Linked DNA regions of Homo sapiens: regions 1 and 3 are each linked to region 2. The links come from fine-mapping of genetic effects on gene expression. A gene starts in region 2. Each other region holds a variant in brackets. All regions are shown on one strand. Distances are between the middles of the regions.

Evidence for each region. PIP is the estimated chance that this variant, and not a neighbour inherited with it, causes the effect. A credible set is the group of variants that fine-mapping cannot tell apart.
Region 1: its variant is the best candidate, but not a certain one, in a credible set for the expression of MYO3B in thyroid (GTEx, PIP 0.71).
Region 3: its variant is the best candidate, but not a certain one, in a credible set for the expression of MYO3B in tibial artery (GTEx, PIP 0.73).

The regions. Positions count from the first base shown.
Region 1 is chr2:170,204,382-170,215,492 of GRCh38, reverse strand. It overlaps MYO3B (myosin IIIB), which reads right to left. Exons shown (of 35, transcript NM_138995.5): 4 at 1,010-1,114; 5 at 665-764. Among named protein-coding and RNA genes, the nearest start is that of MYO3B, 32 kb to the right of the region's middle. RefSeq lists enhancers at 1-688, 689-1,380. The variant T/C (reference allele first, on the strand shown) is at 4,937.
Region 2 is chr2:170,176,237-170,183,748 of GRCh38, reverse strand. MYO3B (myosin IIIB) reads right to left here and starts at 5,602. Exons shown (of 35, transcript NM_138995.5): 1 at 5,460-5,602. The coding sequence starts at 5,461. RefSeq lists an enhancer at 3,191-3,420.
Region 3 is chr2:170,384,308-170,395,418 of GRCh38, reverse strand. MYO3B (myosin IIIB) reads right to left here. Exons shown (of 35, transcript NM_138995.5): 13 at 9,147-9,230; 14 at 8,111-8,313; 15 at 3,801-3,899; 16 at 2,924-3,038. Among named protein-coding and RNA genes, the nearest start is that of MYO3B-AS1, 39 kb to the right of the region's middle. The variant A/CA (reference allele first, on the strand shown) is at 5,408.

The DNA of each region.
Region 1 (11,111 bases), 30 kb before region 2:
ACTCATTTAGAAGACTAAACCTTCAATAAACTTAAAAAAAAAACCAAATGGTTTGTTGTTTTGTGAATATCAACATATGATATTACAAGGGGATATTTAATAGTTCTCTGGCCTTAGGTGATATTGCCCTGCATTTCCTCTCACACTTCCATTTCCCGTTAATGTTTCCAGTTCAACCAGCCTCACATGTAGCAGCAGTAAACACAATTTAAAAGGATGTTAGCTCCCAGGCCCAGAGGACTATTTTACCTTCTGCTCCCTGGGAATAAGTATGCCTAAGGCTAGTGAAAGTCATTTGAAAGACCAAACTGCTTTCTCTTTTCATATGCAAAAGAAGAAATGACAAAATGTAAATTATAGACAATTGCCCTGAGATGTGAAATTCTTAGCAGAAAACCGAAAAGTTTTTCCATCAAGTTCTTCTTTTGAAACACTTTTATTTTCAATCTTTATAAAATTGCTTCTAAAGCTGAAACTAGATTAGCAAACAGCATCTCCTAGGGTGATCCATCTGGAGCCCCCACCCCCTCCAGCTTGTGTTTGACTGGAAAAGTCCCTCAGCCTATGGTGTAGCAGAGAAGCCCCAGTCTTCTGAGATTGCAATAAATTGTCCCCTTTGGCTAAACTGCACACGTCAAGAAAACAAACGACAAGCAGTCATTACCAAAGTCAACGAGCTTAACTCCTCCTTCTGTTGTCAGAAGAATGTTATTCCCCTTCACATCACGGTGGATGATTCGGTTGTTGTGCAAATGCTGAAGGCCCTGCATGGCATCCCACCACCACCAAACAACAGGAAAGAGAAAGGGGAAATTTACATGCTTATTTTAAAGCAATTACCCTACTATTGAAAAGTCTCATGAAAGTCTACATTTGGCTACACCTTCCTGCTGTTAGTAATCCTTGCATATCATAGGGCAGTTTCCCCATTGTTAATATGCAATAAGGACCCAAGCAATGAACAAACCATCCCATCTGCTGTCATACCCCATTTGATAGATGTTCTTACCAAGAGGGCCCCGTACAAGATGTATGAGATCATTGCTTCATCCAACCGCTGGCCACATCTGAGTAGACCTTTGACAAGCTCAGTGACTGAGCCCCCATTACACAGCTGCAAGAAGAGGTGCCAGACACAGGGAGAGCAGGAGACCACATGTGAAAAAGAAAAGAAAAAGAAATTAAGAAAAGCCGACTGATACTGATTCAATGTAGTAAATTTGCAGATTACAAAACTCCAGCTTGGAATACTCAGACTTCACATTTCCATTACCCAGTCTAATCTAATTCTTTGCGTATGTATTTTTTATTTGAGGTGATGATTTATGAGTGAAAGTGCATGTTCAAAATGCTAACTTTTTAATTGCCAAATATAAAATAAAAATAAAATATAAAGCACAATTAGAAATTTTTTACAAAGAATATTTTTGGAAAGAAAAAGCATATAAATAATAATGGCAACTTATTGGATATTTTTCACTTTATATGAATATTGTCTATGTTTTTAATGTGCATTTTGAGGATAAGGAAAAACCGGGAGAGGCAAGATGGATGCCCTTGATACCTGAGAGAGAATAAATTTCAGTGATTTCTCCAGTGCTAGCACGTATCAGAAGCCCAACCAGCAGTTCTTCCTAGAACTGCCATTGCAGATAAAGTTTATGGAGTGAAGTTGCATCATAAGTGCATTTATTAACTTTTTAATGTTCAATTTTAGGCTCTCAGCAACTTTATGCTCTTCTCTCTTTTTTGTCTGTAATTAAAAACACTAATTTTATTTTGCATATTTGTTCTTTGTCATATATTGTATCTTAACTGAAGTTTGAGCACATAAAGCAGTTATACTGAGAGAAGAGAGACAGACCCTCTCATATTGTTTTATATTGTTTTATACTCAGAAAAGAAAAGCAAAACAAAAGGCAGGTAGCCCGGTGCCTAGGAACCAGACCCGAAACCAGGCCTGGGCCTGCCTGACCTAAGCCTGGTAGTTAAAGATTGACCCCTGACCTAACCGGATATGTTATCTATAGATTCCAGATATTGTATAGAAAAGACACTGTGAAACTTCCCGGTCTGTTCTGTTTCACTCTGACCACCGGTGCATGCAGCCCCTGTCACGTACCCCCTGCTTGGTCAATCGATCACGACTCTCTCACGCGGACCCCCTTAGAGTTGTGAGCCCTTAAAAGGGACAGGAATTGCTCACTCAGAGAGCTCGGCTCTTGAGACAGGAGTCTTGCCCGATGCTCCCGGCGGAATAAACCACTTCCTTCTTTAACTCGGTGTCTGAGGAGTTTTGTCTGCGGCTTGTCCTGCTACAATACTTTTTCATCAACTTAAGGATTTCCAAAGATGACTCTTACTAATTGCAGAAGTCAACGTGCAGGTTTGGGTTTGCTACAAGCCATCCTAAGTCAAAGGTTCTTAACTGTTTTGAGCAGAGCATGGAAATACCCTGAAATTGTAGGCAGCATGCTGTATATGCATCTTGCAGTTTACTGGGGAGAAAATGCAGAGCTTTCACCAGATTCTAAAAGCTACTGAGATAGCCAAACGCCTAGGCAGATAAAAAGGGGGTCCCCAGAGAATCTCTGACCTGCCCCGCAAGTGTTTACATCAGATGCTTTGTGCAGATTAGGCAACAATTGTGCCCTAGGCTTGTATGGGCATCCCCACAGCAGACTGGAGCCAGACACGAGCACTGGGGGAAATGGGTGGAGCCACGGGGAATTCACGCCTTATGCAGGGAAGTAGCCTGCTCTCTTTAGCTCGTGTGGTGACCTGGGAATCAATCGGTGAGGTAGAGGGCCTGTTAGCAGGACTCCATCTCACTTTGCTGAGTTCTTTCTTTTTTTTCCTTTTCTCCCAATAAATTCCGCTCCTCACCCTTTTATGTGTCTACCAATCTAATCTTTCCTGGTCAAGTGACAAAAACCCCGTTTTGGTGGAACTAAGGAGAAAGTTCTGCAACATTTTTGGCATCCAGGCGTAGGGCTTAAGGAAAGGTGAGTGACATGCAAACCAAAAAGTCTTTTTCCTTTGGCTTCTAAGCCTTTTTGTCCTCCGACTTCTTCTGAGGGTAGAGAAATTATGCCCCCCCATATTAAAATGTCATTCCTGGAGGTCAGGAATGTCGGCTGGACGGGCAAACTGGTGGCTCCCCAGCTCCCAAGTTTCTCTCCCTGTTGGAGAAACTCACTGGCATAAAAATAAGAGATTCTTCCCCCAGACTTTTTTTTTTTTTTTTTTGAGAGGGAGTTTCACTGTTTTTGCCCAGGCTGGAGTGCAGTGGCGCCATCTTGGCTCACCACAAACTCCGCCCCCTGGGTCCAAGCGATTCTCCTGCCTCAGCCTCCAGAGTAGCTGGGATTACAGGTATGCGCCACCACACCCAGCTAATTTTGTATTTTTAGTAGAGACAGGGTTTCTCCATGTTGGTCAGGCTGGTCTTGAACTCCCGACCTCAGGTGATCTGCCAGCCTCGGCCTCCCAAGGTGCTGGGATTACAGGCCTGAGCCACAGAACCCAGCTGGCTTTTTTTTTTTTTTTTAAGAAAACATTTTACCAGGCCAGGACCCCAACTATCAGGGTTTATATTTTCTGTAAAGTTTTAATTATGAAAAAGGATTTGTGAGGTTGGTCTTAAGCTGTAGCCAATCTGGTGTGCTTTGCATGACTTCCTGTATGGCCAACAGCAAACTTTGCTGCAGGCCTCCATCTTGTTTTGTGTGCTTGGGATTGTGACCTGTAACCATGTGGCAATGCTTTTTGTTTTTCATTTCACAATGATGCCTAGGTTCAATCCTGGCTTAGGAAATGAGTACTTTCCAGTTAATATCTGTGTGACTTCTGCCATTTGCTGATTCTCTTCCCCACCATGAACAACGCTTAGCCTTTTTCTTACATCTTCCTTTCACTGGGTTACCTCTAAAGGTTCTAAATTTTGTAAGAATTGCTTACCCTTATCCCCTTCGAAAATACCGCATACGCTCACAGTGAAATAATAACCTTAAGTGAGGCTTGTTGGTTTCACCTGCGAGGTTAACGTTAGTAAAGTTTGAAAGCCAGAAATACTAGCTGCTTGGCATGGCTAAAATCGGGTAATAAGGGAGTTAAAAGGATTTTCTTAGAGAGTGCTCAGTTTAATTAAAAGTGGATGTCCAAGTTATGGTTTATTTAAAAGGCCTTTATGCTTTTTCCTCTTTGGGTATCTTGCTTTGCTGGAAAAAGGCTTTTCCTCAGTTGACTAAATTATTTTTCTCCATTTGGCTTGCCACTCTCAGTGCATGCATGGCAGGCCCTAAGATAACTCCTGGGGCCATGGGACTCCTTGGGAAAAACAGACAAGGCACCACTCCGTTTTGGGAAGAAACCTGTTTTTCTCATGGAACCCCAGGAATTAAAAGTGGATAGATCCCTCTCAAACTCTGATTTTGCCTCCCAGTCATGCCTGTTTATTAGGCCTTAAAAGCTGCATGTTTTCCTAGCCCTGTCTCTTAAAGGGCCCCACCCAGAGGCCAATAATCCAAATAGGAGATGGGCAAATGAAAATCTTATGGCTGCTGGTTTTCTTCTGCCTGTCTGTGTAGTTACATATGTGTTGTGTGTGTGATGTCTATAAAAAAGCTCTAATTAATTGGTCTAATGGAAGACAAGTGCTTGGATCAAATTTTTTTTAAAGGGAAGATTAAAGCTGTGGTACGTTTTAGTTCATGTGACTTTAATCTTTGAGAAATAAAAACAGCCTTAAAGATTATTGGTAAAATGCAGATGTTGTCAAATATACACAGGTGAACTAAATTATGCAGGTCAGATACTAGGTTTGCTAAATGTTTTAAGGTTATAAACTGCCTTTTTGGTTTTTAAGAACTTTTCAACTTGCCAGCTTGACAATTAGTAAGGCCTGGGGACATAAGGAATTAACCACACCCTTAAT[T/C]ATGTTGGAAGGAGTCAAACCTTGCCTGAACCTAGCACATAATTAAAACAACTTACCAGGTTTTACATTAAACTTAAAATTGCTAGGGGTTACCATTATAACATGTAATTGAAACTACTGGAAATAGATTTACACGCAAGGTATGTAGGAACAGTAAGATGTGTTTTTAGTAAAAGATTACAAGAAGGCATGGAAATGTAAATTCTTGCCTAGGTTTAAAGGACTGTTTTGAATTAGATAAAATAAAGCTGACAGTTTAAACAAATGATGGAAGGACTGTAAAAATTAATATTGCAAAAATTCAGTGTGTGAACAGATTGACTAAATTCAAAAGGGTATTATATAGTTTTTTTGTAAATTGAGCATTGAAATAAAAGCACAACAAGGTACTCTTAAGGCACTAATCTGCTCTTTAGCAAAATTTGTAAAGGGTTATAAAAGGTTTTTGCTTTTTTAAATTTCTGAGTCATCGTTTGGCAAAATAAATAACTTTTGGTAATCTGGAATTCTATTTCAGTGTTTTAAACCACTAACATATTTAATAGGCTTCCCAAAATCAAACTTCAGTTTCAAAATTGCCTTTCCTGACACCTAGCTTTTGGATGCTACAGAGGGCCCTGGAGTATCCAAAAGAGAGGTAAAAGGGATCATTTGACATGTTTAGTTACATGGAATTGCCAAAATGGTGTTCAATATTATTTAGGTTATATTTTGATGAATAATATTAATATGTGTTCCAAAATTGTATGGGATTTTTAAAATTCTAATGTCTAATGTATATGCTATCATCATAATTAAGGTTGTTATGTTATTGTAAACCAGACTTCTTTGAGAAGAAGAGAGATAACCAAACTTCTTTGTCAATTGTGTTTCTAACTGTAAATACCCTGGGCAATTTTTTTATTCCCAACAATTGTTGTCTTGTTTTGGTCCTTTTCAAAAGATAGTTTATAATAAACCAGACTCTGACAGGTGCCACAGGACTCTGACAGGTGCTCTCAAATACAGGTTTCTGATAACTTTGGAGATTGTGACATTGGAAAAAAGGAAAAATGTACAGGACTCATAAAGAGCTGAAATGTTCATGAATATCAAACAAGAGTTAACTAAATGGACCGAACTCATAGAAAACTGAAGCTATCTTTTTGACTTTTGCTTGGAATATTGCTGACCCTTGTTTTGTTTTTCAGAGTCAAGGAAACTTATTTTGAACTATTTATGGCCTTTAATGATTAAGGTATACTCCTGTGAACAAAATTTGGAGCATATATGTCCCTCTCTGCCTGGCTTCCCCAGAATTTGGAAACTAGTTGTGAGTATTCTTAACTTACAGCAATGTAGTTGTTTGCATCAGTGCCATAAGAATCCATTTTCTTTTGCAGTATGATGCAATTGGAGAAACTGTTTTACCAAGGCTTTGACTGGAAGGGTATGCTTCCCTTTAAGGAGTCAAGCTCGACTTGCAGAGCTGCTAAAAGCCCCTTGGGAAAACTGGCCTTATCTACGCAGTACCTGTATAGGGTTCCTGACCTGTAGTAAGTAAAAAATGTTACTTTATGACAGGACCAGGAGCTCTAAGTTTATCTTGGGACCTTAAAAGGAGAGGATCACCCAACTCACAGGTATTTGAGGATACAAACCCATGGCTGTGCTCAGCTTTAAAAGGTCTTATCCGAAATTCCTTGAGGAACAGAGTTCCATCAAAGCCAATCTAAAAGGCCTATGTAGAAACAATTATTCTTGCTGCACTTTATGCAAATAATCAGGTCAAGTGTAAGACTAAAGTCTATTTTGCCAGCAACTCAGTCCTGATTTTTTTTTAACAAAAAAATGAGGGACTGGAGATAGAGAAATTATGTTTTAAAACTTACCATACATTTGTCATTAAATTCTAGACTCATTAGTTGTTTTTAAGTTTTTGCCTACCCTTTAGACTAACCCTGCTTGTTCCTGTGAACCAACCAGGAATCTCCAGCTGCAGCTTAGAAAGAATAAAAGGGATAGGTGATGTAAAAACCTGGATCAAAATTCTAGTTCTGAGCAATTATCCTGCAAATACTGCCAGGTGATGGGAATAAATAGGATATAAATAGGGTGCCCATCACCCAGAGTTTTCTTCTGGGGAAAGTAAGACCAAGGGAGCTAACCAAAGCCAAGCCCCATGCACCTACATCTTAGCAAGCATAACTATAGCCACCAGTTATCTGGGCATGTCACAAGACATCCTTTTCTCTCCCTTGTTGGAGGAGGACTCAATTCCACAGCTTCACCTTAGCATTTGGCTTATGATAAGGAGTCCATGCAACACCCCTTCTCCGAGGCACATTTTTGTCCCAAACTCAATTCCAAGCTTCAGGTCAAAGCCCTAGGAAAGAAAACTGGATTTGAGGGATCCAGAGGTAGATGATAATGGAAGTTAAAAGGCATAGCACAGGTGAGCATGACTGGTTTCCTGCCAGTTAAGCCAGGCTTCCCATTTCATGGATAAAGGTCATGATACTACCCGTGGCATAAATGAGGTCTAGAGAATTCAAAGGCTACTGACAGCAGAGGAGATAGGGCATACGTGGGTAAGAGTGGATACTCCCACCCCCAGACTCCCTTTTAACAAGGGTGAAAGCCGCTTTGACTCCATGGGCAGTACCCTGTCACAGTCACTGGAACTTGGGGATACAAGGATGGAGGAAAAGAAAGAGGAATGACTCACTTTCTCTCCCTCATGTACCCCAGGTATTTGCTAGGAAGAGAAGGGAACCAGGGATGCCTTGCTCTCCTCTTTCTAGATGAGTAGCCATTCATCTTCAGTCTGTACCCCTTTTGAGTGCATCCTGAACCCCTGGGATGCACTTTAGACTAATCCTTTGAGAAAAAAAAAAGCCTTTTTTTTTTTCTTTCTCTTCCTCTCTTCACTGATAGGTAATTGTCTCTCTGTACTATGGGACACTCCCCTCAGATGCATCCTCCAAACTAGGAACAGTTAATTTCCCAAACCTTAGACTGGTTGGCTTAGGATTGCGCTCAGGGGAAGGGAACCCAAAAGCCTGACACGATGGCAGAAAGGTAAAAGTTTTTTACCAGTTGGGCTTTTGGCCTCCCTCTTCCTGTGCAAACATAAAAGGCCTCAAGACTTTTGAGCTATCCCCACCCCCTGCCCCCATTTTGTTTTAATACATGTTTTCTAATAACCCAGTTTGTCTCTTTCTCACCTTCATGACATCAAACTCCAAATGGTCATGCAACTGGAGCCTCGGATGATGGCCCCTTTGGCCAGCAACCCTTAGATAGGCCTCTGAGGGAGATCTGACTGTTTTCCCCTAACTGGAGTTAGGGGAGATTAAGAGGACAAGATTAGAATGAGGATGCTCCCTCTGGGAGGGGGGTGTCTGTGTAAGCGGGTAATGATAATAGAAATTTCAGTTTCTTATGATCCTCTTCCCATTTGGAAATCTAAGAGGAGACCTCTTGATAACAAGGGGTGTCTGTGTCAAGTGAAATGAAAGTATGGCATGGTGAGGTAGACCATGCTTGAGATTACAATAACAGTTTTCTACAATCTGCTCACAACTTGTAAGACACTCAGAACTTCATGCTCTATTTGGGGACAGGGATAAGGTTAGAGTTTAAATAAGGACAAAGGACATGAGGACCTCATGATAGGAGGGAGTGTCAGAGACCAGGAACATCAAAGATACCAAAGGGAGAAAATACAGTTTTATTATCACAAGGACTTTGTGGTTACAATACAGTTCCGAAGCCTCTGCCCTCACTACCATGGCATTATGTAAGCATCTACTTGTACCCAGATCCAGATGCCACCCAGGGAAAAGGGAGAGGGAAGAGGGAGAGAAGAGGCCCTAAAAAACTGAGTACGTACCCAAATGACTAAGCCTTGAACTGGACAGTGAAAATTGGATATAAATACTGGAATATGCCACTCCACAAAGTCACTCAACTGGACTTAAGTTTAACAAAATGGGTTAGAATCAGTTGCCTCCTTTAGTCAGGCTGGGGGCTCAAGAACCCAGTTTAGTTCAGTTATTGAGAAGAAAGGCACCTCTTTGTTATCAATAGTTTATGACTGTCTGGTTTATTACCTATTACTCAATCATGAATATGACACAATCTCTAGCCTCAAAGAGGTCACTGCCCAGTAATGGACATACGAGTAATTATAGTGTGGAATGTGGAAGCAGAGCTGTGCCTAAGGAAGTGTGGTGGCACCAAAGAAGGAAGGGTGAACTCTGCTGAGGGAGGGCAAAGAGGGGACAGTCTAGGAAAACTTCCCAGAGGATGTAACATTTACAATGAGTTTGAAGGACAAATGGGTTTGGGGCAGGTGGACATGAAGGGAAAGAAGATTCTGTGAAAAGGAACATGGGGACATCTTGTGCAAATGTAGGGGGCATGAAAGAATGAGGGGGAATGTGCATGTGAGGGTACATGTGTGTGATGAGTTCTAAATACTCTACTACTGTTGGGACAAAGGATGCCAGAATCCTGGGGCAGGGAGATGGAGGAGGAAGGCCAATGACAGGGAATGACAGGTATGCCCTGCTAAGGAGTATGGGCTTTATTATAATATACTATGTATACTACCCATATAATATATATCCATATACTACGCATATAATATATACCTGTATACTACCCATATAATATTCTATGTATATTATAATACCATGATATATCACTAGATAAAAAAGGGAAACTATTAACAGATTTTAGGCAGGAGGTCTCAATGTTCAGACTGGCATTCTAGAAAAATGATTTGGTCAGCAGATGGAGGATGGACAGAAGACAACACTAGGAGCTGGAGTATCCATTGGAAGATATTGACGTAATCAAGAGAGGCAGGGTCAAGAAGTCATGAGGATAAAAGGGAGGGAGAGATTTGGGAGACTTTTTTTGAGATAGAAATGACAGGAATTTCTGACCAGCCACATGTGAAAGGTGAAGAAGAGACAGAGTCTAGGGAAACTGTGAGAATTAGGAAAATATCAATAGTCTTTGCTCCTCTAAAGGAAAGGCAGTAATAGGGATGCAAAGCACAACAGAACCTTCATCAGGACCACTCCCCACCCTGGCTCACATCTCAGGGAGGCACAGGCTTTCTTGCATTGCAAGCATGCTATTAAAATTCTACTGAGAGAAATTTTAAATTAAATGCTGGGTGATGATCCCAGAAAATGCAACCCTGGAATTTTCCCCTGACACCTCATTTTGGTCTCTCTCCCTGCCCTACTTTAAGTGTGGCCATTTTTGCAACAAAGGCCTCTTCAGCAATATTTTATATAGGTAGCCAACTTATAAACTTTATTTGTAACTCTAGAACTTATGAAGGGATTAAGAGTAGCTATTTGTCAGCAGGATCAAAACTCAGCTATGGATTTAAAAACAACAAAGGAATCTTACCCAGCCAGTGCTTTTTGTTCACTAAATGTCAGAGTATAAGAGCTGTCTGACTTCCCAGAACTCACAGAAACATATAATTAAACTGCTCAGGACACTTTTAAAGGAAGCTGTCCTGTGAAGTTGATAAGCCCACCAGCAAGGTTTTCAAGGGCAGCCTATGGGTTATAGAAAAAAGACTGGGCACTTGGATATAAAAAAAAGAAATCAGGTGTACACTGACAATTGTCTAATCAGAATAAATGTTCAGTGAAATGGGTTGAACATTTTAAAAGCATAACAAAGAATTATATTTAAATGCACCAAGTAAAATAATCCCTTTAGAATTGTAAGAAGGCAACCAAGCCTCCCACCCCAGCCCTGAGGGTTGACATATCAGCCCTTTATTCCCGCCCACTCTGCCAGCCACCAGATTCAAATACAGAAGTGTGTTTTCATTCCTGCAGTTCCTCCCTACGCCCTCAGCATTCAGGAAATGTGGTAGCTGAATGCATCTAGAATTTAATGAGCATTTTGCTCCAAACCAAGAAAAATAGAAAAATCATTTACATTCCACATCTATTTTCCAAAACGTCATTGAATATTGATTCAATCACAGTATGTGCATTTGCTAAGACAGTCATCATTTCAAGCAATAAAATGTTCCTTGCTCAATAAGCCATCAACTTTCTTCCACATTATTAAAGAATGGCCCATGCAACACAATCACCAGACCTAGGCTCCAACGTTCAAGTAGCTTCTATACTAGCTTGCTGCTTTGACATAG
Region 2 (7,512 bases):
AAGACAAGTATCTCTCACAAACACTATAAAATTTTGCATTGTTTTTGAAGTATTAGCCACTGTGATTAGACAAAAAAACATAGAAATAAACACTGGGAAGATGGTGAATATAAAATAAATAGTGGAATGATTTATTCCTGGAAAATCAAAGTTTAACAATGAAAAAAATTAAGTTGATTCATTGAGGAGCTGAGTATAAAATTAGCATCTAGAAATCAAGCAATTTCAAAATATATTTTTCTATATGTTAAAAGTAATCAGCCAGAAAGAAAATAGCATTTTAATAGGAATTAAAGAGAGTAAAATGCCCAAAGCTAAACCTAACGAGAACAGAGCAGAATGTATAAAAGTAAAATCTTAAAATCAATGGATTAAATGAAAAGAGACCAAAAAAATGCAAAACCATATACCTTATGCTTGGATAGAAAACCTTACTGTGAAGATGTCAATTCTTCCTAAATTTAGTCTGAAAGTAAATAATTGTTTTTTTTTGAGACAGAGTCTTGCTCTGTGGCCCAGGCTGGAGTGCAATGGTGTGATCTCAGCTCACTGCAACCTCTGCCTCCCAGGTTCAAGCAATTTTCTTGCCTGAGCCTCCCAAGTAACTGGGATTACAGGTGCATGCCACCACGCCCAGCTAATTTTTTTGTATTTTAGTAGAGACGGGGTTTCACAGTGTTGCCCAGGCTGGTCTTGAACTCCTGAGCTCAGGCAATCCACCCGCCTTGGCCTCCCAAAGTCCTAGATTACAGGCATGAGCCACAGCGCCCAGCCGCTTTGTTTTTTTTTAAGAATTTGACAAAATGATATTAAACTTCATTAGAAAATTAAACACATGAGGGCTGGTCACAGTGGCTCACACCTGTAATCCCAGCACTTTGGGAGGCCAAGGCAGACAGATCACTTGAGGTCAGGAGTTTGACCAGCCAGGCCAACATGGTGAAACCTCGTCTCTACTAAAAACAGAAAACTTAGCCGGGTGTGGTGCAGGTGCCTGTAATCCCAGCTACTCAGGAGGCTGAGGCAGGAGAATAACATAAACCTGGGAGGCGTAGGTTGCAGACAGCTGAGATCACGCCACTGCACTCCACCTTGGGCAATGGAGTGAAACTCAGTCTCAAAAAAAAAAAAAAAGAAACAGAAAAAGAAAAACACATAACATGAAAATTTTAAAAAAGAATAATTAGTGAACATAATTTGACCAGACACTAAAACATGTTATACTGCTAGAGTAATTAAAACATTATGCCACAGGGGTAGAAATAAGTAGTCAGATCGTTAGACTAGAAACCAAAAGTAGACTCAAATACACAAAGAAATAGGGTTTATGATAAAAATCACATTACAAATCAATAGGCAAAAGATGGACTAAATAATACTGTTCAATAAATTATGCTGGCTTAACTTGCTGGCTGTTCAGAAAAAAAGTTAAGCCAGATTGCTACCTCATTCCTTTCTCCAAAATAGAGTATGGTGGCTCAAAATTTTTTAAAAAAATATAGCTAAATACATTATAGTCTTGGTGTAGGCAAGAAATATTTTCAAGTAGAATAGAAAACTCACAAGCCCTAAGAAAAAAATTGATAAACATAATTGCATACAAGTAAAAAGGTCTCTACAACCAAAAGAATTGTTGTAAGTACTAACATTTTTCCAAAAAATAAATAGAAAAGAAGGTTTGTATCAGGAGCTAATTTTCTATCAAGAGTATATACAATAAAAAAGAAAAAGACTCAAAAAATTTAAATGTATAAAAGATGCTAAATCTCACTAGTAAATTTTAAACGGCAAATCAAACTAATGAGATACCATTTGTCTCCTATCACACTGTCAAGATTTTTAGAAGTTTGATAATAGTGTTAAGAGAAATAAGCACTCTGAGACAACATGAGCGAAAGCGTAAACAATCTTTGTGAGGAATTATTAGTCAAAATCTACCAAATGCCCATTCCCTTTGTCTCTGTAATTCTACTGGTAGGCATTTACTTTACATATATAATCAAAAAAAGCACACTTAGATTTATATTAACAGAACATAAAAGAAAAACCATCATCTCGATCGATGCAGAAAAAGCATTCACAAAAAATTCAACATTTATTCAAAATTTAAAAACAACAACAAAAATCTCTCAACAGACTAGAAAGTGAAAGGAACTTCTTCATCTGATACAGGAATCTAGGAAAAACCTGAAGTTAACACCACACTTAATGGTGAAAAACCGAATGCTTTCACCTTAAGATCAGAAGCCAAGGATGTCTGCTCTCATCATTTATATTGAATACTGTGGTGAAGCCAGAATAATAAGTCAAGAAAAAGAAAATTTAAAAATCCAGATTAGAAGGGAAGAAGTAAAATGGGCTTAATTTGAAGATTACATGATTATCTATTTAAAAAACTGATGGAATTTATAAAAACATTACTAGAACTAATTAGTGAGTTTATCAGAATTACAGGATACAAACAAGGTCAATATTTTAAATTCAATTATATTTCTACATACTAGAAAGGAAAACTTTTCAACAGTGCTAAAACAATTGTAGAGCAATATGCAAAAAGAAAAAAAGAATCTTTATCCTTACACCACATATAAAAATTAACTTTAATCATTAAACAGATGTAAGAGCTAAAACTCTATTAAACTTGAAGTAGATAGACATACAAGATTGTTCACTATAGTATTATTTTCAGTAGAAAACCAGATACAACCTAGAGGCCCATCATCATGGAGAGATTATCTAATAAATCATAATAGTTACATAAAATTAAATACAATGTAGCCACAGGTAACCACCAAAAAGAAAAAAGGTAAATTTTCTGCCAATTAATATGGAAAGAATGCCAAATATACAATTAAGATTTGTTTTAAAAGTGTTGAATAGTGTATAGAGAGGACAATTTTTGTGTAAATACAAAGAATATTTGCATTTCTAGTCATTTTATGTGTATATTTGTGTGTATGTCTCTATGTATGTGTATATCCTTATATACATTTTTCCAGAAGGCTACACAGGAAACTCTTAAACTTTAGGGAGAGGTGGTAAAAATCAGAGAGTTTGGAAAAGAGAGAAATTTATATGCTTTTTAAAATTATTACACATTTTTAGTCATGTTTTTTGCTAGTGCATATGTTATTCTACTTTTTAAAATAAATATTTTTTAAAAAAACATATAAGAGATCTCTACAGAGGAGACTATTATGACCCAAATGTGTGCTGAAGTCAGAGGATAGCAGAAACCATATGAAACAGAGGCTCATCCTGAGAAGAAAAAGAAAACAGAGAAATAAGAAACTGAAAGGACCATGCTTGAGAGAGTGAGACAAAGAGGATTAGTGAGTGGGTTCACTGTGAATTCTACATCTTGGCCCTCTGAGGCCTGCTAAGCTTTGCTGTCTGTCCTTGTAACCCATGAAATTTCCTACTGCATTCTTCCAAGCAGCCCCTCTTTTCATGAGCTGATTTGAGTTTCTCGTGAGCTAGTTTTAGTTCCTTAACAACCCCAAATTGGTCTAGTCTGATCCCTTGTTGAATACCCTGAATTAGTCCCTAACGGAGGTACAGCCTTACCTTGTTGAAAGTAAAGCACTCTGCAGCATGCACCCTGTGAATGTCTGCAGTTAGTCAAGCCTAGCGAGCATGATTTAAATAGAAACTTGCCCAGCAACATTTTATACTCATTAGAAAATTCATGATGAAGATTTCCATTGCTCAGTATGCTATTCAGAATATTTTTTCTAGATGTTATAGTATGGTATATATGAATCACAAATCATAGAATGCTTTCAAATCTAGAGAATAGATTTTAGAAAGAAGAAATCGGAAACCTGAACTGTGAAATGTCAGAGGAAATCTGTACAAATATTAAATATAACACCCAGAGATACACAGAATAAGGAAACACATACCATACAAGCGTGAGTAAATTAGAGAATAATTCCAAACCAATACATAAGCAAGTGCATAATAGTTGTGTTAGTCCATTTTCTGCTGCTGTAACAGAATACCACAGACTGCATCATTTATAAACAATAGAAGTTTATTTGGCTCATGGTTCTGGAGGCTGGGAAGTCCAAGATCAAGGGGCCACATCTGGTGAGGGCCTTCTTGCTGCATCATAACATGGTGGAAGGTCTCACATAGTGAGACAGGGCAAGAGAGTGAGAGCTCAAGAGAGAGAAAAAGGAGACTGAACCTATCCTTTTACTAGGAGCCGTCTCCCACAATAACAGCATTAATCCATTCATAAGGGCAGAGCCCTCATGACCTAGTCACCTCTTAAAGGTCCCATTTCTTCTCACAATGGCAATTAAATTTCAACATGATCTTTGGAGGGGACATTCAAACCATAACCATGGTAAAGACGTAAGAGTAGGAACTGGCTTCTTCACAAACCACCTATCTGGATGCTGCTAGATAGGGCCTGTTCAAGTATAGCTCAAATGTCTTCTCTTCTAGGAGGCCTTTCCTAATTTTCCCACTAGAACTGACCTTTATGGTTCCACTGATTATGTACTCTTTTCCTTTCTTTAAATTTTATTTTATTTTAAGTTCCAGGTTACATGTGCAGGACGTGCAGGTTTGTTACACAGATAAACATGTGCTATGGTGGGTTGGCTGCACCTATTAAGCCCCCCATGCATTAGCTATTTATCCTGATGCTCCAGGGGAGACACTCAGGACTGGCATTTGACAGAGCTTGGTAGAGGAATCCAATGATCTCTAGGTTGATCTCTAAGTTCCATCTCTAATGTTCTATGGATTTTAAACCTTGAATATACAAAATTACTGAGAGGAAGAAAAGAATCATGGCATAATGGAATTTATCTACTATTGTTTACATTGTCATGTTACCAAATTAACAAATCTGTCATGATATTGCAGTCACTAAGGAACAATACATACCCACAGCTCTTACAAATGATTAACTAAATGATCAGATTTTTCATTTCCCCACCAAAGCATGAGGAAATTTATCTTAGCTTTAGCTGCCTGAAACCTCTCTTGGGTGAAAAACATTAAAAACATCTGCAAATTACTGATGACTAATGCCCTTCAATTTGGCCTCAAGCTGAGAAATTCTGTGCAGAAATAAAGTGGTTTATAATCCCACAGGTCCATTCTATTATAAACTGCAGGTGGCAAATCAAGTGACTATGAACTATGCTGTGTGTATGTGTGTGTGTGTGTGTGTGTGTGTGTGGTGTGTGTCTGTGTAAAAAGCAATACTCAAGAGGGTGTTTATCCTACTCCTTCAAGAGAAATTTAACCACCCAGACAAAAGGCAAATGCTAACTGAGAGGACCCAGGAATCTGGGTGATGTCAGACAGAGGCCCAAAGCCAGAGTGGCTGTCATCCCCCTCCACTGCCCACCAGCCAGGGCAGCTGCATCTGCCCTTTGCAGAAAAACAATCTAAAGCAAGCACAGAAGAAAGCTGGAAGGAAAATAACTGCAACTCACATCGATGACCTATTTTCTGAATCCGGCTTATGAGAGATTGGATTCTCATTCCTCCAAAAACCAGCAGAACACTTCAGGCCCAGAAAATGGTGTCTTTGATGACTAGAATGTATGACACATCATTACCAAAGGACTTTCGATCTAGGTTCCAAGAGGTGTTAGCCTCAGATGACTATTGTGGGAGGAGCTGATAAATCCACCAAATCCTTGGTGACTTTGCTTCACTATTAGGCAAGATTAAGATGATGCTAATTGGTAGTGAGCCTGATCTATTTAGTGTCTCCTACCAGGACACAGAGCAGAATCAAAACCATTCTCACAGATCCTGTTTGCATGTCATTTAACAGTTCCAATGTGATATTCCCCCAACCTTTTAAAGTTCCTTCATTCCAGATTAAATTCCTTCATTCCAAATGCTGCACAATCAAAACTAATCATCTTTTTGTGAGCAAAGGGCATAATCAAAGCATGTAGTCAGGGTCACTTTTCTGAACTGCAGATAAACCCAGGGGAAACACCATGAGTTTCTGATCTGAATTACCAAGCAATGAAACAGTGACTATTCAACAGTGACTATTCATTCAGTAGCATGCCCTGGGCTATATACAGAACAGTAGGTTAAGAGGAGGCAGGGGGTGGGGGGGTGGTGCTGGGCATGGTGGATCACGCCTGTAATCCCAGTACTTTGGGAGGCCAAGGCTCGTGGATCACCTGAGGTCAGGAGTTCGAGACCAGCCTGGCCAACATGGGGAAACCCCATCTCTACTAAAAATACAAAAATTAGCAGGGTATGGTGGTGTGCGCCTGTAATCCCAGCTACCAGGGATGCTGAGGCAGGAGAATTGTTTGAACCTGGGAAACGGAGGTTGCAGTGAGTAGAGATTCTGCCACTGCACTCCAGGCTGGGCAACAAAGTAAGACTCCATCTCAAAAAAAAAAAAAAAAAAAAAAAAGGGAGAGAGGGGAAGTGAGAAACAGGAGGGTAGGGTCCCCAGAAAGCTTCTTTTCTGGCCAGCTAACATGACACATAGGCCCATGTGAAATAGTTGAAGACTGTGCAATAACACTGGATAAGCTATATCCATCAATTCTGAGGAGGAGTCAGTTCAACCCAGGACCAAGACTTGAGTGGGAATGCTTCCTGGAGCAGATAAATCTAGGTACAGTTTTGAATGAAGAAGTGAAAAGGATTAGTGTAGATGAGGCAGGAGAGAAACCCAGAGCCAAGAAACAGCACACAGAGAATGCAAATATGAAGAAGGTGATTTAAAGGACAGCGATCTTACTCCCGCTAGTCAATAATGGCCTTTGTGTTTCCATTTACTGTCATAAGAATCTTAAGAATGGGGATAATGTGTTCTATCTTCCTATATTTCCTACAGTATTTGCACATAATAATTGCTCATATTATAGCTAGTAGAATCATGGATTCCTACAGTTGGACTGAACTTATCATCCCATCTGCTTGCAGAATAAATTAATAAATAAATGAACAGGTTATTAAAATTAACAGGTTGTTAAAAAGATCAGCCTGGTTCCAGTAGAAGAATTATAAAAATAATCAAGAGATGAAGTTGAATTTGTATACAAGAGTCAGTTGAAGGCAGAGCTTTCAGGCAGCCTGGGGGGCTGGAATTTTTCCTCAAAGGTGAGAGGGTGCCACACCAGGCTTTTAAACAGTAGAGTAACATAGGAAATTTTCTTTGAGAAAGAGTGTCTTGGCAGATTTTTGCAGGAAAAGGCAAATCAGAAGGCCAGCAGGATTCCATTGCAACAAGGAGTTAAAGGCTATACAGTCTGGAAGGTGACCGACAGCCTGCCCAGGCCCAAGGGAAAAAAAATACCAGATGCCCCAGCAGAGGAGGACTGGCTAGACTGTCTTCACCAGGGATTTGCCCGAGGCCCTTTCAGCCACTGGGCCCCAGTAATTTATCCTAATTTCCTTCCCCACAGCCCCGCCTCTCCACCTCAACCCTGATAGTACTTATTAGCTCAAAATGGACCATCTGAAGGAAGGGACAACCTCTTGCGAACGAACCGAGGGCCTGGTCTG
Region 3 (11,111 bases), 210 kb before region 2:
AATCTTGACCATCACATAGATCATCTGCCCAAAAAGTTTTCATGTAGCATTAAATAGAAACATATCTAAAACCCAATTTATGTAATATGTTAATTCCTACCAGGAAGACAAATATAATTTTAAACAAAAATAGTATGGTTTGGCTCCAGAAATAAGAGTTGAAAAGCACAATCTTCACAATAAGGTCTTAGGTATAATCCCCCAGCCCTCCACAAGGAGTCATCATCATTATTAGTGGAAGACTCCTCCACCAGGGAAATTTCTTTACAATAAACTCAGGGTCAAGTGTTCTTTCAGATACTTTGGCTGTTGTCCCAGAATTAAAATTCATGCTCCTGACTCCACACTAAAGTTTGCTACTCATAATTTTGCTGTAAGGGTTTGAGAAAAACTAAAGGGATTCCTGCAGGGAACTAGTGACATTGTAAGAAAGGAGAAGAACCATAATTTTGATTGACTTGATCAGTTCATTTAAGCTTTATCTAGAAATGTCTGCCAGAAAAACTTAAGAGAAAGTTCTGTTACATCAGCATTTGGCATCTGTTTCCTGACTACCTTCAACTGGATCTTTCTGAATTTAGTCACACTACTTTTTGAGTTTATAAACATGAAGTGAACTGAGTTAACTCAGCAAAACAGGTTGTCAGCAGAGATAGAACCACAGAATTCAGAGTTGGAGAGAGAAGATCCTGCTTCTTCCTTTCATTTCTAAGGTTGCAGCTTATATAAATTGGTTTATTTCCTGTATGAATTAATGTGGGACATGGTGAAAATATACACACATAACACCATTACATTCTGGTTATTCATTTAACAGTACAGACCAGGCACAAATGAAAAATGTTCACCATCTTTTACATTTTTTTCTTTTCATGTTTATTCATACAGTCATTCATTTATTTCTATTGTACCTTTTTTCCCAGAGGGGCTAGGGATGGCTTACTTCAAGGACATATACTTAACATACTTAATTCTTCTGTTTTTAATGCTTTAGTGTTGTTGTACTAAAACAGATTTTAACAGTTTTCAACGTTGTTTATCCTGAAACAGATAGCATCTGTTTTATTATTATTAGCAGTACATTGCTATTATTAGAATGGCACCATTATATACTTTCTTTTAACCCACCTAAGCCTGAGGTTGCAATGTTTTGAATTTTTGCAATCAGACCTTGGTGATGACCTTGAGCAGTAGGGTATAAATAACTCCCACATGTTTAGCATTCCAATAATGGAACACTAGGCATAAATGGGTTCAGCTAGGATCAGTCTCTTCACAGTATTCTATAACTATATTTGTACTCAAAGAAAACAAAATATTAACTCTGTTAATGATTATTAACCTTGACTTCTCTATGGTTCCTGTACCCTTTTAAGGACATGTGCCCCTGCGTACTTTGGCATGACACAAGTGACTTTAAATTGCTCCACTGCCATTCCTACCATGCTTTAACTCTTCTGGGGATGCATCTTTGATTTAAAAAACCTGTTCTTTAAGTTAATAACCACAAAGGTCCTTTAACAATGCTAGAACCTGTTTAATTGCCCCCCTCTAAGAAGCCAAGGAAAATATATTTATATTTTTATCTGACCTTTGGGATTTTCCATTGTCTGTCAGTTTAAAGTCTGCGGGAGGCTGACAGAGAAAATTAACAGCTGGCTAGACAGAAAAAAAAGAAAGGTACTATTATGATTAAAATCAACCATGCAGGGGAGGGAAGGGCTAGCCAATCATACTGCATTACACAGAAGTAATCCTTTATCTGGAGTGGCCATCCCAGGGTAACTGGAGTGTCTTGTAATCTAATCCCTTAAGATTTAACACTCTCACCTACCTCCTAATAATTCACCCCCTTTGTTGGAAAAGCAAAAGAATCTATATATTTTGCAAAATTGATGGCATGAAGCCCAGAAACTATGACATAATGTATCACAGAGTAATATTTGAGCCTAGGGTTATAAATATTGTCTGTCACCCCTAGCATATATTTAATACAGACAGCTTGTATCTAGGATGATAAGGGTAGTACAGTATTGGCCAGGCATGGTGGCTTATGCCTGTAATCCCAGCACTTTGGGAGGCTGAGGCAGGTGGATCACTTGAGGTCAGGAGTTCAAGACCAGCTTGGCCAACATGGTGAAACCCCGTCTCTACTAAAAATACAAAAATTAGTCAGGTGTGGTGGCACACACCTGTAACCCCAGCTACTCGGGAGGCTGAAGCAGGAGAATCGCTTGAAGCCAGGAGACAGAAGTTGCAGTGAGCTGAGATCCCGCCACTGCACTCCAGCCTGGGTGACAGAGTAAGATTCTGTCTCAAAAAAAAAAAAAAAAAGTAGTACAGTACTTAGAGCTATAGTTAATAATGTGCAACTGTGTACCCTGGAGAAGGAAATAACTGCAAGAAAGTTGAAAGGGTTTTAATTAGTTTGTCTTGTTACCTAAGGAGCTACTTGCATAAATATATTTCTGTGACTTGGGTGTCATCTACATATTCCTGTACTCCTACCCCCCGTTCACTTTAATGGTTGGAAGAACGCTCAATCAGAAAAAAAACCCACAGTATTGTTTTGGTATTTGTTATTACACGTGTAATGAATTGATGACAATGATAACAATTTATCAGCACATGGTCCTTAAAACAGTGCTCCCCTAGTTTGATGTTCATCTGGACTTCTCGTTAAAATGATTATATTCTGATGCAGTCATTCTTGGATAGACCTCAGGGTCTGCATTTCTAATAAGTTCTCAGGTGATAACAATGTTTCTGGTCCTGGGACCACACTTTGAGTAGCAAGACCTTATAACATGACCAACATGGCATTTGAAAGCAAGTGTCTTATCCCAAGTGAGAAATACCACATCTTTACTCACATTCATATAAGAATATTGTCACTTGAGTTCCTCTCTTGATCATCACTTACTTTGTCCGTGAACCCTATAATCCTGAAGCAATGCTGAATTGCTTCGAATTGTCTTCTGTAAGACTCCTTGGAAGTTATGTCGTGCATCACCCTTCCAGTTTCATCAGCTATGTACCTAAATGAAGTGGAGCATGACCAAACAGAATGAGCACTGACTTGGAAAGTAGTACAGGCATTTCCATTTTTTGTTTGTTGTTTGTTTAAAGATGGGACCTCACTCTGTTGCCCAGCCTGAAGTGCAGTGGTGTGATCATAGCTCACTGCAGCCTTGAACTCCTGGGCTCTAGTGATCCTCCTGCCTCAGCCTCCTGAGTAGCTTGGACTACAGGTGTATGCCACCACACCCAGCTAATTTTTTTTTTTTTTTTTTTTTGAGACAGGGTCTTGCTCTGTCACCCAGGCTGGAGCGCAGTGGCACGAACTTGGCTCACTGCAGCCTCGACCTCCCAGGTTCAAGCAGTTCTCCCACCTCAGCCTCCCGAGTAGCTAATTAAAAAAAAAATTGTAGAGACAGAGTCTCACTATGCTGCCCTGGCTGGTCTCAAACTCCAGGCTTCAAGTAATCCTCCCACTTCAGCTTGCCAAAGCACTGGGATTACAGGCATGAGCCGCCACACCCAGCCCATTTCCTTTATAGTCTAATACTGTGGTAGAATAATGATGCAAATGGCTGAAAAAAAATAAACCATGTGCAGTTGAGTTTTTGAACTTTCTAGACAATGAAAATGGTGGATACTTCCTGCCACCTCACCCTGGGCACTTTAGTTAAATAGACTGTGAGTTTCCAGTTAGGAAAACAGCTCCATTTACTTCCAAGTTTGTCAACTGCTAATCGTACATTCATCAAAAATTAACAACCAACCCCCCTGACACTTACCTAGGAGGTTTTTCCTCAGGAAGTCTGAAATCAGAAAGCTTCTTTTGGTGATGAAGACCAGCATAAATATAGTAAAATATATGAAAATTTTTCTCTCTCCTGAAAAAAAAAGAGACTTTAGTAATAATATATTCTGGCTTCCCCATCCCAAGTATTTTACACCATTTCCTTTCTGTACAAAAGATTATTCCATGGCAAATTTGTATTTTCAGGCAATTAAATATTATAAATCCCACTTACAGAATAGTGATAGGATTAGTATAGTAATTGTCATAATGTTGCATTATTAAACACACTTTACGACAAGCAAAAGGTTTCAGAGAATGGGACATTTACAGGAAACAGCTCAAGTTACATATGTTGAGCTCTTTCTATTGCAGCCCAAACGCCTACTACCTTCTGCTTGTACCACATGTTGCTTCAGAGACAGTGAGGTCCAGCTTAGAGACATCAGCCAAATCCTCTACTTTACTGGAGCCCTAGACAGGAAGTGGCCTGCAAGTCTCACAGCAGGTTAGGGAGCAGAATTGGTCCAGAACTGAGGTTTTTCACTCTCCCAAGCTGGTATTCTTAAAAGTACTACTCAAAATGTCATTCATTAGTCTGGTCTCCTGCCATCCACCTCTTTTAGGCTACCCTGGCCAGGGTCCTTTCAGATAGGTGCTACTCTGAGCATAGCCTGTGGACTGCTGTCAGTTTCTAACAAGAGAAGGAACTGGTAAGTACATGCCTAGACGTTTTATAGCAAGTGACATTGCCATGACATCCAAGAGCATGATAATTTTTCTGATAATTAATTTGCATTGCATTTTACAAAGGTATTAGTTCAAAATGGGTTGGAGATTTTTTTTAAAAAGTGGTCCCTTAGCACAGAGTTTGAAAAGCACTGCTCCACATCCCCTTCTTTCCTCTGGAGGAGGACAGTCTCTTCTGTAGATACCCTTGGATTTTGGCAAATCTTTTCTTTGGTCAACCTAGCTCCATGAAAAGAAATCGTCTTTCTTCTCCCCTTATCCGCCTTTGTGGCATGGCCCCCATTCTGTTCAGCCTCTCCTGGGTCTCCTCATCTTCCTTTGGTTGTTTATCCTGTCAAAGCCCTTCTGTGACATTCTTTATCCCTGCCCTGTATTCTAGATGCCTCTACTTGCCATTTCTCACTCACTTGTTCACTTAACTAATAAATCTAGTTAAGAGACAGGGTCTCACTCTGTTGTCCAGGCTGGAGTGCAGTGGTGAGGTCATAGCTCACTGCAGCCTCAAATTTCTGGGTTCAAGCAATTCTTGCACCTCAGCCTCCAAAGTAGCCATGACTATAGGCACACATCACCATCCCCCACTAAGGTTTTTGTGTTTGTAGAGACAGAGTCTCACTATGTTGCACAGGCTGGTCTCAAACAAGCTATCTTCCTGCCTTGGCCTCCCAAAGTGCTGGGATTACAGGCGTGAGCCACTGTGCCCAGCCCTTATTTTTATTTTTTAAAAATAAATTTTATTGTGTATATTTAAGATATACAACATGTTATAGGATATATATAAATAGAAAAATGTGACTATTCAATGAATAAACATATTAATTGCCAGTCACGGTAGGCACTATACCAGGTGCC[A/CA]GGGATACAGGACTAAAGGGATTCATGTTCTCTGAGTGTCATTATAAGAAGCCAAGATGGCTACAGGGAAACCAGTGAGGGGGTCCAGGTGAGAAAGCATAATAGCTTGGATAGGGTAATGGTAGTGGTGATGGAGAATAACGGTAAGCTTAAATATTATATATATTCTGGAGAAACAACCAAAAGAACATCCTAATAGACTGAATGAGGATGGTGACGGAAAGAAACCTAGAGTCTGCCTCCTAGATTTCTAGCTTGAGCATCTAGTGATGGTGGCACCCTTCACTGAGACAGGAACCGAAAGGCCTGAGATGAATGTCACTTGTTCTTTAACCTCTGTTACATGTGCAGGCTTTGGCTGGCCCATCTTAGTCTTACATTCCTTTAGTTTTTCTACAGATCCATCTAGTTCTCAATTCTTCCAAGCTTTTCCTGCCGACATCCATCCCTAGCATCACTTCAGTTTCATTTTCATCCCTTTATCTGTCAAGATTGGCTAGGCTTTGTTATGATAATAAACACCCCCAGATCTTAGTAGCTTAACTCAATAAAGGTTTAGTTCTTGCTCAGAGTACATGTCCATGGCAGGTCAGCGGTGGGGCTGTGCTCACTGCAGTCACTGATGGGCTGTGGCTGGCAGAGCAGCCCCCATCTTACACTGTGCCAGACTCTGGAGGGTTGCCATTACATGCCCACTTGCCAGAACCAGTTATATGACCACACCCAGCCACACAGGAACCCTACAGTGTGCCCAGAAGGGGGTGAATCCCAACAGTTAGATGAACAGGACTGGGACAGGCCCCATCTTCTCTTCATCTCATTTAATTCTCATAACAGCCTTGTGAGGTTGACATTATTATGCCCATGTTGCATATGAGGAAAGTAAGGTATATGAATATTTACATTAATAAGCAACATATCACATTAAGTGACCTAGAACTCTCCTCACATTATCTTTGTAAAAGACCACTTTACATTTGAACACAGAACACTATGCTTTCCATTCTGTCAGAGGTAGCTCCCTAAATTTTAAAACCACCCTAACCTGGGGAGACAAAAGCAGGGGACCTCATAAAAATTAATCAAAAAGCCACAGGGAAGCGTAAATGACTCTGACTCTGTCTTTCATTTGTTTAATGTTCATGCCAGTCCCTACTGCGTGAGGAAACTGCAAGTACATGATAGAGGAAGATGCTTGGGTTTTCAACCCAGAACAATTCCTGTAAATTCTACTTGCACAGTATCTCTCAGACTCCTCATCTTCTCTCCATCTCCACTGCCACCGCCTTAGTCTAGGCCAGCGTTCTCTCTCACATGAATCTGGCAACAGCCTCCTAATCATGTCAACACAATCCTTGCATCTCCCCCAATCCATTCCCCATTGAAGCTAGCGTGATCATCTCAAAATGAAAGTTGGGTATGGTGACTCCCCTGCTTGAAAACGTTCAGTGGCTTCCTATTGCCCTTAGAAAAAAGTTTGAGATCCTTATCCTGGTTCCAAAGCCCTGCATGATTTGGTCTCAGTCTTATCTTTGCCACTTTTCCTCCTTGCTCTGGTCCCCACCTCGTTGCCTAACTCCTGGTGATCCTGTGATCTCATATACAGGGAGCCCCTCTTTCTCCCTAGACTAGGTTATGTGTCGTTCCCTTCTCTCGTTTCACCTTAATAGCACCTACTTTGCTTTCTGGTGCTTATTACAATTGTTCTACATTTAAGTTTACTTGTTTAATGCCTGTGATCCTCCCCTACTGCTTCCTCATATACCGCATACTCTAAGCCCCGTGAATACAAGAATCTTTTTTATTTAGTTTGCTCTTACAAGCCAACACAAAGCACAGCACTGGCAAACAGCAGGGATTCAATAATGCATTAATATGGAAGTGCGGAGCCATGCTCCTGAGAAACTCTGGTGTCCTACAATAATAATAATAGCTATTATTATTAACAATTATAATAATAGCTATTATTATTATATGAAGAGTTATTATTATAATAGGAAGAGTAGCTAACACTCTGATAGTATGTACCACACCAGTGGTTATATTATTATCATAGGAAGAGTAGCTAACACTGATAGGGTGTACCACACTAGGCATTCTTTTAAGTAATTTTATATAAATGAACATGTTAATCCTCACAACAAACCCATGAGGTCAGCACTAGTAGCATTTCCATTCCACAGATGAGGCACAGAGAAGGTTAGTGAAATGCCCAATGTCACACAGTGAGTATCAGAACCTGCATTTGAACCCAGATCAAAGTCTGTGCTATTGATTTCTATTACCAAATGCTTTCCCTAAAAACAGAATAATTGTTTTCTCTATCTGTCTCAATCTAAGGAAAAAATTAACATGTGAAATATTCTTGGTGTCTTTTTCTTTTTTAACCAACAAGTTCAATTTTAAGGGGCCTCAGGGTTTTAAAAAATGTCTGCAATGCTGCTAAATTCTACCTGACACAACCAACTCAGGAGAAACAAGCATACCCATCCCTAAAGCACGCCCACCCCAGCCCTTTGTACTCTTTCCATTAATTTCTTTTAGGTCAAAAACTACCACTGATCCTTTGCTTAAATAATTCTTTGCCCTTGGGGAGGGTAGGGGAATGTTAAGAACAAGAATGAAAACTGAACCATTAAAATTTCCAAAGTCTCCCAGTTTTTACTGCAGGGCAAAAACACAGTGATAAAGTAGTGCACCTACGCTGCCTGTTTTATAACTCTGGATTTTTCCAGGAGATATTCAGAGATTCTTGCCCCCATCACAACTCCAGTTGGTGTAAACATCATTTCCAGATATTTTCCAAAACGGCTCGAGTTGTCATTGATGGCAGTGCATGAGTTCCCAAAGGCTTCCACCAGGGAGTTGACTTGTAGAATTTTCTCTCTCAAGGTCTGATTATTGGCCTGTGCCAAACAGAGAACGGTCAAGAAGAGACTCCAGAAACATTACACCAGCAAAGTTGCCAGGCACCATCCCTTGCCCACCAAAATCCACATGGTCTTTTTACAAAGAGCCCCATTTGGGGGACGTTAGCATCAACCACCAGCATCATTTTCTCATATGAGCAACTCCCCAGATCTGCATATGAATCGGATTTGGCTAGATTAGGACAGCAGTTTTAAAAATCCAGCCATATTTCATTTAAAATCCTTGACAGATAAAACACCTAACCAGTTTAGAAAGATTTTTAAATAGATCCCGTAACTTTTCTGGCATTTATCGTAATAGTCTATAAACCTTATCTATAAAAATTCCATACATTCTTTCTTAGTCACCTAGTACACTAATTCAGAGTGTAAGTAACTACTAGACTATTTGAATTCATTCTTTCAATATTGATTTCACCAAGCTGAAAATTTTCATTTCCCTCAACTTTTGCTCAAAGGCTTCTATTTTACATCCTTTTAATCACTATAGTGGCTTTCCCTGATCCTGTTCCTAGTGCTTAACCATTTTTACTACTTAATGGCTGAATGTTTCTATTACATTGAAAACATGAAAATTAATTGCCGATAATCTAGTAAATTTGTGCTGGAATTATTCTCCTCCCTACGTGAAGGAAGGATAGCATGCTGACATCTTAAGAGGCCTCGCTATCAGGAGGCAAACGTAGCAAAGATGGAATGTCTTTATGTAAGCCTTAATAAAAAAAACCCAGCACTTCCATCATTTATCAAATATGCAGTTACTCTGTAGGAACTTCTCGCCACAATACGTAAAGCAGATTAGTCAATACCTTTCCCAAGAAAGTCAAATGCTGAACAATCAGGTGGGCGCTTTCTGTCTTCCCAGAGCCACTCTCTCCGCTGATGACAATGCACTGGCACAGAAAATGGAGCGTCAAGTGAAGAATTTATAGCACAGAAGCAACTTGCATGCTTCATATAACATCCACTACTGTACACCTTAATTTTTCACTGAGAGATAGATCTTAGGCATCTTCCTATTTCAGTACATAGAGACCTTCTTCAACCTTTTGTATAGCTACTTGTTGTTCCATTGTACATATGTACCATAATCTGTTTAATCTGTCCAATATTGGGATATTTGAGTTTTTTCCTTGTAATTATAAACAACATTGCAATGAATAACCTTATACTTAAGTCATTATATTTTTATGCAGGTTCATCTGCAGGAGAAATTCCTAGAAATGGGGATGTTGGATCAAAAGGTAAATACATTTGTAAATTTGACACACGTTACCAAATTGCTTTCCTAGGGACTATACCAATATGTGAAAGTGCCTGCTCTCCTGTAGCCTCAACAACAGAATGTTAGATTGTTGACAATCTAATAGCTTAAAAAAATGGTATCTCAGTGCAGCCTTATTCTGCATTTTAAAAATTATGAATGAGGCCTCCTTCCATATGCTTAAGAGGCTTTTCTTTTACATGACCTGTCCGTATTGTTTGCCCATTTTTTATTGTATTGTTGATATTTTTATCATTCATTTCTAGGAGCTCTTTAGGTATAAAGGAAATTAGTGGATGTGGTATAATAAAAATTATATATTGGGTCTTTGTCCCTGGTTCCTGGCACTGAGCTCCTAAAACCTTTGGGATTTCCAAGAGTGGTAGGAGTATCTTTCGTTATTCACAAGGAGCCCCTTTCAACCATACCTCAGTTTATTCCTAAGAAGGTGGTTCAAGGTGAGCCCCCTAGACAGCTTCAGACTGGTCATTAGAAAGACCAAACATGTGATTAGAGTGTGGGAACTTTCAGCCCTACCTCCCAACTTCTAGAAAGAAGAGGGGATTTAAAGATTAAGTTATACAAATTCTTGAACAAGGAGATTCAGAGAGCTTCTGAGTTGGTGAACACATTGAGGTGCTGGGAGGGGGATGTGTCCAGAAAAGGCATGGAAGCTCTGTGTGCCATGCCCCCTTCCTCCCCCCATACACCCTGCCCCATGTGTCTCTTCTATTTGGCTGTTCCTGAGTTATACCCTTCATAATAAACTGGTAAATGTAAGTAAAGTGTTTTCCTCAGTTCCTTGAGTCATTCCTAGTGAATTATCAAACCTAAAGAGAGTCACAAGAACCCCTGGACTGGTATTCGGCTGGGCAGATGTGTGAGAAGCCTAGGTACTCCATTTGCAGCTGGCATCTAAAGTGGGAACAGTCTTGTGGCACTAATCGCTTAATCTGTGGAGTCTGTGCTAACTCCAGGTAGTGTCAGAATTGAACTGAATTGTTGGGCACCCAGTTGGTGTTGGAGAATTGGTTCATGCTGGAAAAAATACAACATTTGGTGTCAGAAGTGGTGTCAAAAAAGACAACACAGTGAGGCAACTTCTTAACTTAAAAACGATATATATTTCTCTCCATTTACTTCCTCCCTATGAAATCTATGGACATTTTACAAGTATCTGGGAAAGGTAAGAATTTGGAAGAGCTAAGTTTCTAAGCTACAGTGAATCCATGTATTCCATTTTATAATCTATGTTGTTATAATGTCATCTATTACTCAACAAACCCCAAAGCTGGGACTTTTCCAGATCTTAGGAAATCCACACATTGATACCCTCAGAAAATTTGCTTGCCAAATTAGACTACTTCTATTTCAAACAGAATAAAGAAACAAAGAAAAATATACCTATTGAAAGTAAAGAAGGGATGAAAGATTAGATATATGAGCAATGTGAATTAGAAGGCTAGAAAGGTAAAATGGATGAGCCTGTGTTTAGTATTGAGTTTAAGGT